4 separate regions of the Homo sapiens genome follow, and all the other regions are reported to be linked to region 2. The links are microRNA targets in miRTarBase. Many come from high-throughput screens and were not tested one by one. Region 2 holds a microRNA gene; each other region holds the end of a gene's coding sequence.
What was found. The annotated mature microRNA hsa-miR-4421 reads ACCUGUCUGUGGAAAGGAGCUA and lies in region 2 at 2,125-2,146, opposite strand. An mRNA with a match to its seed (bases 2 to 7 or 8) in the 3' UTR can be bound and repressed. Matches are read on the target gene's strand: a 7mer-m8 pairs with bases 2 to 8, a 7mer-A1 pairs with bases 2 to 7 and ends in A, and an 8mer does both.

Region 1: miRTarBase lists ARHGAP18 as a target of hsa-miR-4421. Seed matches in the 3' UTR shown: 7mer-m8 at 2,351-2,357.
Region 3: the mRNA of MAP4 is a reported target of hsa-miR-4421. Seed matches in the 3' UTR shown: 7mer-A1 at 875-881.
Region 4: the mRNA of PTPN3 is a reported target of hsa-miR-4421. Seed matches in the 3' UTR shown: 7mer-A1 at 1,542-1,548, 7mer-m8 at 2,229-2,235 and 8mer at 2,438-2,445.

What each region holds. Positions count from the first base shown.
Region 1 is chr6:129,575,700-129,578,809 of GRCh38, reverse strand. ARHGAP18 (Rho GTPase activating protein 18) reads left to right here. Exons shown (of 15, transcript NM_033515.3): 15 at 206-2,678. The coding sequence ends at 297. Among named protein-coding and RNA genes, the nearest start is that of ARHGAP18, 130 kb to the left of the region's middle.
Region 2 is chr1:51,058,915-51,062,024 of GRCh38, reverse strand. It overlaps MIR4421 (microRNA 4421), which reads right to left and starts at 2,188; the gene lies at 2,120-2,188. It overlaps MIR6500 (microRNA 6500), which reads right to left and starts at 2,007; the gene lies at 1,922-2,007.
Region 3 is chr3:47,850,225-47,853,322 of GRCh38, reverse strand. It overlaps MAP4 (microtubule associated protein 4), which reads left to right. Exons shown (of 21, transcript NM_001385682.1): 20 at 1-160; 21 at 385-2,628. The coding sequence ends at 389. Among named protein-coding and RNA genes, the nearest start is that of MIR1226, 2.2 kb to the right of the region's middle. RefSeq lists an enhancer at 547-1,064.
Region 4 is chr9:109,376,721-109,379,830 of GRCh38, reverse strand. PTPN3 (protein tyrosine phosphatase non-receptor type 3) reads left to right here. Exons shown (of 26, transcript NM_002829.4): 26 at 198-3,110. The coding sequence ends at 275. Among named protein-coding and RNA genes, the nearest start is that of EPB41L4B, 57 kb to the right of the region's middle.

The sequences.
Region 1 (3,110 bases), not on the chromosome of region 2:
GTATTTTTTGTAGAGATGGGGTTTCATTATGTTGCCCAGGCTGGCCTCAAACTCCTGATCTCAACCAATCTGCCCACCTCGGCCTCCCAAAGTAGAATAAGTATTTTGAAGTCCAAGACTTAAGAGTTAAATAATTAAGCTTAAGTTTAAAATTGCATACCAATCTACCTGCTGTATTAAACTGACACAACATCTATTTTAACAGGGGAACGCTGCCTTGATGATGACACTTACATGAAGGATTTATATCAGCTTAACCCAAATGCTGAGTGGGTTATAAAGTCAAAGCCATTGTAGAAGACTTAACAAGCTGCAGATAACCATGTGGACTTCTGTCATAATTCTTGCTGAGTCAAGAGTGTAAATAAAAGAAATGGCAGGACTCATATTATTCAGTTGTACCCAAGTATTTAAAAATGACTCTCTTAAGCCTTAAAAAGTCATAGATTTGTGCTGCTGCCAGAATTATATTAATTATTATTAATGTTATTATTAGAAAAAAAATTTCTGGAGTGAGAGTAAAGAGGCTTAATTAGTTTGTGGGCAGTTTTCATATGCTCTGTGAAATGTGTCCAGATGTGACATAGTTTTTTTTTTTAATATGTGGAAATGTCTTCTCTTCCCATTCTTTTCTCCTAAAATCATATATACTGTAATATATGCTCTCTCACCTCTATTACCTCCTCACATCTACCCTTTCCCAGTTAGGTTTGCTTTTTGACCAAAAAGATAACAAATACCAGGTATGGCAAGTTGTGAAGACAGCACATTAAAACATACCTAATTTCACAGTATTCCTGTCACGACAGAATGTTAGTATTCATCTCTTTGAATCATTTGCTCAAATAATAACATTCCACCTTTTCCTGCTGTATCACAGGAAGTGATTTGCATTTTTTTTCAGTTCATCTGACTTATGTTCACAGAACCGTATCAGCGACCAAGAAAATAGGACTGTCAGAAGCTGCCAGTTATTACTGAACCATTAAATACTTATATACTAAGAATAAATAAAATATACCCATGTGAAATAATAATTGGATTATGGATAACAAGAGAGTGAAAGCCAAAGCACTTTCTGTCTACTGTACTCTTCTAAATGGAATTTTAAAAGTCATAGCTGGCTTTACGTGTTGTCATTATTAGCATTATAAATATGCATGATAGTATAATCCAGTAATGGTTGAAGAATGTATTTTACTTAAAGAGGGATTTTTTTTTTTAAGTCCTGAATAAGTCTACTGGAAGAATTATTCTTCTGGGTGAAAAAGCTTTTGTTTGTGTTCTTATTTTAAATAATCGGAGTCAATTTATTAAAATGTTCTTGAAAGTACTATTCCCAGGGATTTTAATGCACAAACCATATTGTGACAAGAGATGAGCCTCTGTACTGTAAATAAGAAATGAAGTAGAGAAATGTTAAATATTTTATGAGTTTAGAATATAGTAAATAAAAGGTGATGTAAATGAATGCTGCACAAACGGTGTTCATGATACTTTTAGTAGTACTTTAGGAAAAACTACACATTCTCAGAAGCTCTTGATGTCTCTAATGAAGGGGGGGAATGCTGTTAATGAGAACAGTCATAAATTTTTAGCATATAATTACAAGAACAGCCTGTGGATATGATCACTTAAATGATTTTGTGGTGATTCGTGCCATTGCTTTTTTATTTAAAAGAAAATTTTGTAATTAAATGCCTTTTTCTAAATTATCTTCTCTTGGAATCATTACTTTTAATCCTATGTGTTTATGAGTATTTTTGCTTTTTTTTTATTAATATTGAGAAATGGACTTTTTTGTTATTAAAAGTCACCTCTATTTTCTATTTTCTTTGTAATTTTTAAAGTAGGAAGATGTCAGAGATGTAAATATGTTTTCGTCTTTAGTTTTTTTCCTTTTACAAATTTTTATTCTTCAGGATTTTCAAAATACAGTTTAGTCTGTTTCTTTGACAATATGTATTAATTTCCCAATTAGCAAAATGGTACTTATTAGTGGGTTGAAAACAATTAATAATATAAAAGAAAAATTAAGTGCTTAAAACATTTTAGGAGTATACAACTTCAAAAAAAAAGATAGCAGTGAGGATAATGATTTAAGTAAAAGGTTGTCTGAAGCATATGCCAACTAAATTTCGCAACGTTTGCTACCTACCTGAAAAGGAGGGTCAGGAGGGAGACACAACATATTTTTGATCATGAAAAAGTATCTTAATTTTAAAAAAGTGAAAATGCCATTTTATTTTGAATCCCTTTTAGAACTCACGACCCAAGTTCATCAATGTTGAATAATATCACGTTTAAATAACAAAAAAATATGGACTTTAAAAAATCTCAAATTTTTTAGAGACAGGGTCTTGCTCTGTTTTCCAGATTGGAGTACAGCAGTGCATTCGCGGCTAACTGCAGCCTCAAGCACTGGGGCTCAAGCAAACCTCCTGCCTCAGCCTCGTGAGTAGCTAGGACCACAGGTGCATGCCACCATGCCTGGCTCTAAAGAGAAAAAAAACTTGATACCATAGAGCCTTGAATATAAATATCCTGATGTTAACCTACTGCTTTTGCTGTGATTTTTTTTCCTTAGTGAGTTTTAAATCTCAGGCTAGATTTTTATTTGTTTTTCTGTGTGTGTATGAGACAAAATAAAAATAAATATATTTGCCTTGAGTTTAAAACATTTGAATTCTTAAAGGAGGACTGGTTGTCCTGGTAACGTTGGTGATGCTCTTTTCTGAAAGAGGCTTCATTAATCTGTTCTCACACTGCTAGGAAGAAATACCTGAGACTGGGTGAGTTATAAAGAGGTTTAATTGACTTACATGGCTGGGGAGGCCTCAGGAAACTTACAGTCATGGCAGAAGGGTAAGCAAACATGTCCTTCACATGGTGCCAGGAAGGAGAAGGATGAGAAGCACAGGGTGAAGCGGGGAAAAGCCCCTCACAAAACCATTAGATCTTGTGAGAACTCACAATCACAAGAACAGCACGGGGAACTGCCCCCATGATTCAGTCACTTCCCACAAGATCCTTCCCCCAACATATGGGGATTACAATTCAGATTACAATTCAAGATAAGATTCGGGTGGAGACACAGAGCCAGACTGTAT
Region 2 (3,110 bases):
GTATAAATGCAAAGAGATGCACACCTATACACAACATAACCAACTGGAAAACCAAGGGCACAGAGAGTATATTGAAAGCAGAAAGACAGAAGCAGCTCATCATCTCTGAGGTATTCTTGATAAGATTAACAGCCAAATTCTTTCCAGTAACTTTATGAATATAAACTATTGTTATGAATATAGACTATCAGAATGATTCCAGCTCCATATAAAAATATTTATGGACCATGACAAAGTGGAATTTATTCCATGAATACAGGCTCAGCATACATTATCATATATCATATTAATAGAATAATGGACAAAAGCCAAACAGTCATGTCATAGATATGAAAAAGCACTTGAGAAAATTCAACACACTTTAATGATTAAAAAAACAAACAAGAAACCTGGAATAGAAGGAAACTTCCTCAGCCTGATAAAGGGCATCTATGAAAACACACTGCTAATGTCACTTTGTGGTGAAAGGCTTGAAAAAATTATCCCATCTTAGTCTGTGTTACTATTAATATAAAGGCATACCTGAGGCTGGGTAATTCATGAAGAAAAGAGGTTCATTTGTCTCACGGTTCTGCAGGCTGCACAAGAATCATGGCATTGGCATCTGCTTCTAGTGAAGGCTCCAGGCTGATTCCACTTATGGCAGAAAGTGAAGAGGAGCTGGTATATGCATATCATATGGTGAGAGAGGAAGCAAGAGAGAGACTAGAGGAGGTACCAGGCTTTTTTCAACAACCAGTTCTTGTGGGAACTAAAAGTAAGAACTCACTCTCGTGAGAATGGTACAGAGCTATTCATGAAGGATCCACCCCCACAACCCAAACACTCCTACCAGGCCCCATCTTTAACACTGGGGATCAGATTTCAACATGAGACTTGGCAGGGCCAAACAAATCATATTCAAACCATAGTACCACCTAAGATCAGGAATAAGACAAGGACGTTCACTCTTACCATTTATATTCAGTGTTGTACCAAGGGCTGCATACCCATCAGTCAGAATCCTTGTGTCATGGCATCCTCCAGGTGTCACTTTTCCAGTTGGAAACCTCTGTGGCCAGTGGTGCCTTTGCCAGAGTTTTGCTCAAGCCTGCTGGGCTTGTTCCACCCACTCGGCCTGGCAGGCTGCACTCAGCTCATGCTACTGGCCTGGCTCCCACACCTTCAAAGAATGATCCAGGCATGGAGAGGAGAGGGGTGCACAAGTAAGCAAGCATGGGGTCTGGCTGCTGCACACAGCCAAGCATTGGCTGCTGTGGTGGGGTGGGCAGTTCCAGGTGCCACCACAGGTGCTGGCTCTGTTCAAGCCTGTGGCTGGATCAGATGCACTATAAGTGGCTTCTGCTCTGGGCACTCACATCTGGACAAGGGGAACATGGTGGCACTTGGAAGCTCCAAGACACTAGAAACCACAGAGCCCCAAAGAGGGTGTCACAGCCCTGGCTGGGGGAGCCTGTGCATCTGAGCTCCCTGAAGGGCTGCAGCTCTTCTCTCCTTCTCATTGCCTGCAGTGTGACGAGTGGGGTGGAGGCAGGTGTTTTAGCTCTGTTTGTGTTATAGCACTTTCAGTCCCACCATTCAACAGGTCCTGAATTTTTGTCCTGTGTCCAGGAAGAATGAGGTATGCAGAAAACTGGAGGGTGAGCAAGGCAGAAAGGAACTTTCTTGAGCAAAAGAGTGACAGAACAGCTCTTGGGAGACCTGGAGTTGGTAGCTCCTTTCCACAGGCAGGTCATCCCAACTAGTTCAGCCCTCAGTAGAGAGGAGCCCCAGATTGGGTAGCTCCATTTCACAGGCAGGTCATCCTGACAAGTGTCCAGCTCTCTGGGGAGAGGAGACCTGGAGTGGGTAGCTCCTTTCCATAGGCAGTTAGTCCTGACGAGTGCATCCCTCAGCAGAGAGGAGACCAGAGTGGGCAGCTCCTACCTGCAGGCAGGTCATCCCAACAAGTGTCCAGCTCTCAGAAGAAAGGACACCTGGAGTGGATAGCTCCTTTCTGCAGGCAGGTAGTCCTGACGAGTGCAGCCCTCAGCAGAGAAGAGACCCAGAGAAGGTAGCTCCTAGCTGCAGGCAGGTTGTCCAGATGAGTGTCCAGCTCTCAGGGGAGAGGAAACCCAGAGTAGGTAGCTCCTTTCCACAGACAGGTTGTCCCAACAAGTGTTCAACTCTCAGCAGAAAGGAGACCCAGAGTGAGTAGCTCTTTTCCACAGGCAGGTCATACTGACAAGTAGAGGAGACCTGAAGTGGGTAGCTCCTTCCTGCAGCTGGTAGTCCTGACATCTGTATGAGTCTAGCTAGGTAACATAGTTTTTATGGGCTCAGAAAGGAAGAAGTGTGTTCTGATTGGCCCATGGGTGGCCATGGGCGGGCCTGGAAAAAGCACCATAAGTTCTCACTCCAGGCCGCAGACTCCACCTGGAGCTGACAGCCCAGCCCCCAGGCTTCATGCCATCCATGGCTTGAAGGTTGCGTTTCACTGGGAACCTGCCCCTTTCTGCCCAGGAGCCTGTCTGCCTCCTGTCACCATCAACATGTTGTCCATGCCGCCCAGGCTGTTCATGCTGAGGTTTGCCTACAGGCCCACACTGAGCCACCCTGAGCAACCCCTTGGTCTCCCTCTTGTGCTCTTCAGTTCCCAAAGTCTGGATGGCCTGAGACAGCAGGGGGCTGGCATGTCAGCACTGCCCTGAGTGCTTGGGTACCCAGCTGGGTCACAACAGTGCCTGGGCTCTGCCACAACTTTGCTCTGCCCCAGAGTGGGGGCCAGGAGCAGGGAGAGGCCAGGCAGTGGGAGCAGGCACTTTCAAGCCTACGGGAACAAAGGGCTTCCGGGGCCCCTGAGACCTCAGGGATGCCTGGGTCTGTGGCTACAGCTGAGAAGCTGCAGCTGTGCCTGGGAGCATGTGGCTCCTGCTCCACTGACTTGTTAGGGGGTGGGGCTCCCACCTGTTCCCGGCACCCGTGGGCTCAGCAGAGTGTGCAGCCCCAGTTGTGCTTCCCCTGCTGAAGCCGGCATCTTCACAGTGGCTACTCCAGACAGGCCACTGCTGCCATCACTTGCACCAACCTGTAGGTGACAGTCTTCCTCCATGAAGCCAGTTCATATGCTC
Region 3 (3,098 bases), not on the chromosome of region 2:
TGTCCGGGTCCCCCTGCTGGGGAGGAGCCGGCCATCTCTGAGGCAGCGCCTGAAGCTGGCGCCCCCACTTCAGCCAGTGGCCTCAATGGCCACCCCACCCTGTCAGGGGGTGGTGACCAAAGGGAGGCCCAGACCTTGGACAGCCAGATCCAGGAGACAAGTAAGTGGCTGGGCTCGGCCTAAGGGCCAGCCAGGGGCCCTGCCACTGGCCGCAAATTGAAACTCCTTTGTTTTTGACTAGAGTGTGGCCTAAATTTTAATGAAGTAACCTTTTATTTTCCAGGCATCTAATGATGACATTCTGGTCTCGTCTTCCGTCTCCCCCGTGTTCCCCTCTTGTCTCCCCTGTTCCCCTCTCCCTTCCCTCCTCCCATGTCACTGCAGATTGAGACCTACAGGCTGACGTTCCGGGCAAATGCCAGGGCCCGCACCGACCACGGGGCCGACATTGTCTCCCGCCCCCCACACTTCCCTGGCGGCCCCAACTCGGGCTCCCGGGTCCTTGGCCCCCTTTCCCGGGCTGTCCACTAGACCAGTGAGCGCTTGGGCGCCGTGCTGGGCAGCCCGCTAGGCTCGCCTTCCCTCCTGCTTTGCGTGCCCGGGGCAGCAGCAGCCCTGCCCCACACCTCCTCTCACTCCCCAGCCTGGGCCCATCTCCCTGCTTTGGTCTTGCCCCATCACTGCGCCACTGCTCCGTGGAGGAGGTTGGGAGGGGGTTGGGGTGGTTGAGGCTAAGTTGGGATCTAGGAGAGGAGAACCAGATTCTATCCTCATCTTTTTTTGGTTCTTTGGTCCAAACCCAAAAGAAACTGACATGCCCTCCCTTCTCCCTGGATCTACCTGGAGGGAAGAGTGGAGGTGGATTCCGAGTGGTGACAGGACGCTGACCGTGGAGCTTAAGCCACTGCCTCTCCCTCTGGTCCCACAAATGGGCGCCCCCCCCTCCCCATGCAGGTGGTGTCGGGCCCTTCTTGCTGCCCTGCCCCAAGTTGGGGGTCAGTGCTGCCTGTCCCCATGCTTAACATACCCGCCTAGCTGCTGTCACATTTTTCTTGTTTTGTCCTTTTATTTTTTTCTAATAACCTAAAAACTGGCAAAATAGTTCTGCAGGTTGAAGCCATGTCTACATGAAAGTCCTCAGTAAGTGTTAGAGGGAACAGGGCGGAGATATCCTTATGCCACCCCCGCTGGAGGATGTGGGCAGCTTAGGGCCCTGGAGGCGGTGCGGCAGGGAAGAGGGGTGCAGAGGCTGTGGCTGGTGAGCCGGTCAGGCACACAAGGGGCCCTTGGAGCGTGGACTGGTTGGTTTTGCCATTTTGTTGTGTGTATGCTGCTTTTCTTTTCTAACCAAGAGGCTGGTTTTGGCATCTCTGTCCCATTCCCTGGGATCTGGTGGTCAGCCCTAGGATAAAAAGCCAGGGCTGGAGAACAAGAAAGGGCCAGGAGATGGAATTCCTTCAGGCCGGCACCCACACCCTAGGACATGTAAGCCCTCATGTCCAAGGGAGCCTCATGCAGATAGTAGGAAATCAGGTCTGGAAATTTAAAAATAAAAGGCATGAGACTAAGGCTATCTGCTTCCCTTATGCCCTGACTGGAGAGGGGAGGGAGGAGAGGCAAGGCCCACAGAGGGCATCCCAGCTAGGCCTTGGGATGGCTGCAGTGAGGAGAAATCCCGGGAACTGTATTGACACAAAGATTCTTATTGCACTTGTATTTTTTGTATTAAAGTTTGCATGGTTTCTAATAAAGGATTCAAACATAAGTTTGTAGTGAAATGGCCTGGGAGATTCCAAGGGCTTCTCTGGAGGGGGATTGGCTGCAGTGTAGATTTGCCTCTGAGGAGGCTGCCCCAGACTTGGCCTCCTCATGCCCCCTCCTGACCTCTGCCCTTCTCTGGTCCTGGCATCCCTGGAGAAGGTAGGGGTCTTGACCTAAGTTTAGATTTGATCTCCATGTGCAGGGAGGCTGTCCTGGGCCTGACAGGTCCTCCCCCTTTCTGAGGTAGCAGTGCCTTGTGGAGGTTTGACACCATGTCCCTAGCTCCCCAAGCACACACCAGGAAACTGCAGGGGCTCACGGAGGAAGTGCTGCCTGGGCCAGGGGGACCAGCTTTCCTCCGTAGAGACCATGTGCAGAACACTTCTGCTGTGCCAAGAACATGAGGGAGCCAGTGTTTTGTCAGCAGGAAGAAAGGGCCTGCTGGGATGAAAGTGGGAAGGAAACAGGGTTGCGTAGTCAGGAGACACCTCAGGGGCAACAGCACAGGCCCAGAGTACCTGCTGCCTCCACTGCGTCTGTCCTGGGGTCATGAGGATGCTGAGGTTGACGACAGGTTCCAGGTCCTTTCACTCCTTTGGCCAAAGGTTGGGGGTAGGTGGCCCAAGTGGCGTGCTCTCTAGGTAGACAACAGGAGTGGTCAGAGTTCCCTCAAAGGATCCTCCACTCCAGAGCACCTGAGAAGGCCGGGACCAGAGGCCCTGTGTGATGTGTACTCCGCAGCTGTTTGGGGTGGGACATTTCTGTACTTCTCGATTTGCTTATGGCTCAGCCATTACCTGTGTCAGTCCATGATTCTGTTGTAACAGTTTTAAGAGTAAATAAATAAAGCTGCCTGATGTCCCATCACGCAGGCTTCGTGCTTCTGTCTCGTTTTGCATCTACCACCTCCCTGGATCTTCCTGCCCTCAGCTCAGCCCCTCAGCTGTGAACTTGTGGATGTGGACACGGGAAGGACCACTGTGCCACATAGCCCTGCGCCTTGGCTACCTGTGGAACTCTCCCCTAGTCTGCCTGATAAAGGGCTACTTGACACTTACTTGCTTACTTACTGTCCAAAACTACAAGGACAGTGACAGTTCTGACAGGCTTCCTGTGGTGGGTACCGAGAGCAGCAGCTGTGCCAGGGGACTGGGGTGGTTAACAGCACCGCTGCTTCATGCTCTTTCTTGGTGAAGGGAGGAGGTTCCAACCCCCTTCTCTCTTAAAAGACTTGGGGCCACAGCCAGCCCGTTCCCCAGCAATAAGCATCTCACTCTCTTCTCTACCTACCTTCCTCCTTCCTCTTTGGGGAACCGTGGCCCAGTGTATGGAGGCCC
Region 4 (3,110 bases), not on the chromosome of region 2:
CTTTGCCCACCCCTCTCTGGGAGTGCCCCCTCCCCGCATCATATAGGAACTAGGGCTTCACAGGTGTACCTGGCCTGTGGCCCAGAGTTGGCGCTCAGGGAATATTTACAAATGCTGCAAAAGACCCACCGGTACAGGGTGTGGTAGGCAGCATTTCCTGGAGCTACAGGACTTGACAGCATTTTTTTCTTTTCCAGAGCCAGTACAAGTTTGTGTGTGAAGCGATTCTTCGTGTGTATGAAGAAGGTTTAGTCCAAATGCTGGATCCTAGTTAAGACAACTGTGAAAAAGTTCATTCCTCTTTCCCAAGGGCATCCTCCTTGAAAGAGGAGGACAGACCTCTCTGGAAGCAGCAAGAGGAACCAGTAGCTGTGGGAAAGGAATGGGCACCTCTGAACCCAGGCACTTTAAACTTCTATAGAAAAGATATCGTGTACATAGGAACTGGTGTAGATAAGCATGCAATTATGGCATCATTTAGGCCTGTATTTCTATGGAAAGATACAAAAAGGATCTCAGTTTGGGGCCTGTCCTAATGCCTTCTTCCCTAACATCACCACACACACCCCTGTCGGCATCCTGGAGCAATTGAGACCGGACACCCACAGAGCTGTTGTCCTCCCAGCAACAAGATGGTGTGGTTATCTTGGGTCATTTGGATGTTTTGTTTGTTTCTGTGTGTCAGACTGTAAGGGCTGAGCTTTCTGTGCTTCTAGGTGGAGCTGGAACAATTCAGATTCACCCGCCCTGATGCTAAGGAAACCCTGACGTATGTACTAGATGGCAGGGCACTGGGGGTCAGGCTGAAGGCTGAGCAACACCTCTCTGCCCTCCCTCCCTTTGTCCCATCTCCCAGCGACTTCCAATATTCATGTTTCTGAGAATTGTGTCCCTCTTCAGGTTCCCTCTTGGTGCCTAACCTGGATTAGTAATGTGCATTCAGGTGAATTTTCAGCTGAGGCTCTGAGAACTGGTACTCTCAGTGTGTTCTGGTCATCTTGTGGCTTAGTTGTAGAAGCAGGTGTGTCTCTTGCCTCTGCTTGCCTCCTACTGCACACTCAGCACCCAGGACTGGAATCACCGACTACTGAATCTCCTACATGTATTGCTGCTACTTCAAGCTCCTCCACTTGAAACCTTATGATTTTCCCAAGGGGAGATGGGACAGTGTCATCTAAATATTCCGAATGTTTGGCCTTCTGAGAAAAGAGCTTCTAGTAATTGAACCATGGGAAACCCAGCTTCTGGAGGGTTGGCCGTGGGGCTGTGTACATGTGTGTGCCCAGGGGTGAGTGTTTCTCAGGATTCCTAACGATTCAAATTACCGTTGAGTATATATAAAGAATGAGTCTCTGTATGGAAGAACAAATGTGTGCATTCACCCCCAGTCACAATGGTCTCCATTGCATTTCAAAGGAGAGGATCAGACTATCTGAATATAAACACAATCTGATGTTAATTTATTCTAAGAACACCATCATTTTGATTGTCCTAAAGAATTCTGCCTTTGTGAATACCGTGTTAAATTTTTTTAAATTTGTGACAGGATTGTAGCAAATTATTATTTAAGGAAAATAAATTGTGTAAACATTTAATGTGGTATTTTTGAACAGCGGTTTTTATGTACTCAGAAGAGGAAGTAAAGCCAGGTTCTTAATGGTATTTATAGAAAAGATGTTTTCATATTATAATGCACATAAATGAAGCCATTTTGATATTCAGCAAATTCGGTGCCAATTGAATAGTTTGCTGGTAGCAAGACGGATGAAGACCTATATGGGAGATTCTTTATCTCTAGAGCTAGCATATTTACTTGCATACTTTGTTTCTTTTCCACATGGATATTTTACTGCTAAATGGCAGAGGTGGGAGGGAGATGTCACACAGTACCATAACCCCATATTGAAAACAAGAAACCACCAGAAAGTTTGCAGCTAAGGGGCAGGGGATTCAGTTCCTACGCCCACTCAGCACTAACTACTTGCGGGCCTGGTTGCTTAGAAGCTCTACCTCTCTTTCATTATCTGTAAAATAGAAACAATACTTAGGACTTTAGTTGGAACATGAGGATTGAATAAGATCACGCTATTCATGTGACTTTTTATCGGCTAGAACAGCAACAGACACTGCTGTGGGTGAGTTACTTAGAAAAGTTTAGTTATCAGTGATTAGCCCAAAAACACATCAGTCAAAAATAGAATCCACTGGATTTTTGTCTCTCTTTTTAGAGACAGGGTCTCACTGTCGCCCAGGCTGGAGTACAGTGGCATGATCATTGTTCACTGCAGCCTCAAATTCCTGGGCTCAAGCAATCCTCGCACCTCAGCCTCCTGAGTAGCCGGGACTATAGGCACATGCCACCTCACCTGGCTTGTGTGTGTGTGTGTGTGTGTGTGTGTGTGTGTGTGTGTGTGTGTGTGTGTGTGTGTGTGTGTAGAGACAGGATCTTGATGTGTTGCCTAGGCTGGTCTCAAACTCCTGGCCTCAAGTGATCTTCCCACCTCAGCCTCCAAAACTGTTGGGATTATAGGCGTGAGCCACTGTGCCCAGCCTAACTGGGTTTTTATGAGAGGAAAATAGAAAATGCTCTTCTAGAAGAGAGAGAACAAGAGCACAAAATAATCTGGACTCACAAAAATTCAGCAAGCTCCAAGAAAGGGGGATGGAGGGAACGCTGGCAAAAATTTAAATGCCATTAGGATATTTAGCAAGTTATTACTGTTTGGTAAAAATGCATCATCACCCTGTGTGCAAAATGCTTGCAAAGTAGTCTAAATGTCTTTGGAGATGGGTGTTTTACTGCTTTTTTCCAAAAACAAATTGTTTATTATGGTTGCAGAAATGCAGCCATTACGGTCACATAAATTTCTAAAAAGCCTACCAAAGGTTGCAAGCAGTCTTCTGCCACTGGGCAGGCCAGCAGTTCAGACCCAGCGAGGTTGCCAGGAACAAATCCAGGAAATACTGGGAAGAACAAGACAAGAGAATTACCTAAAAGAGCAAACAATTCAAGTAAATCCTGTAGCTATTACCACTTAAAATCCGTAGCTCAAGATTCCTGTTTCACCACCTTATACACTTAAGCAATTATACTTAAGCCTTTTTTTAGT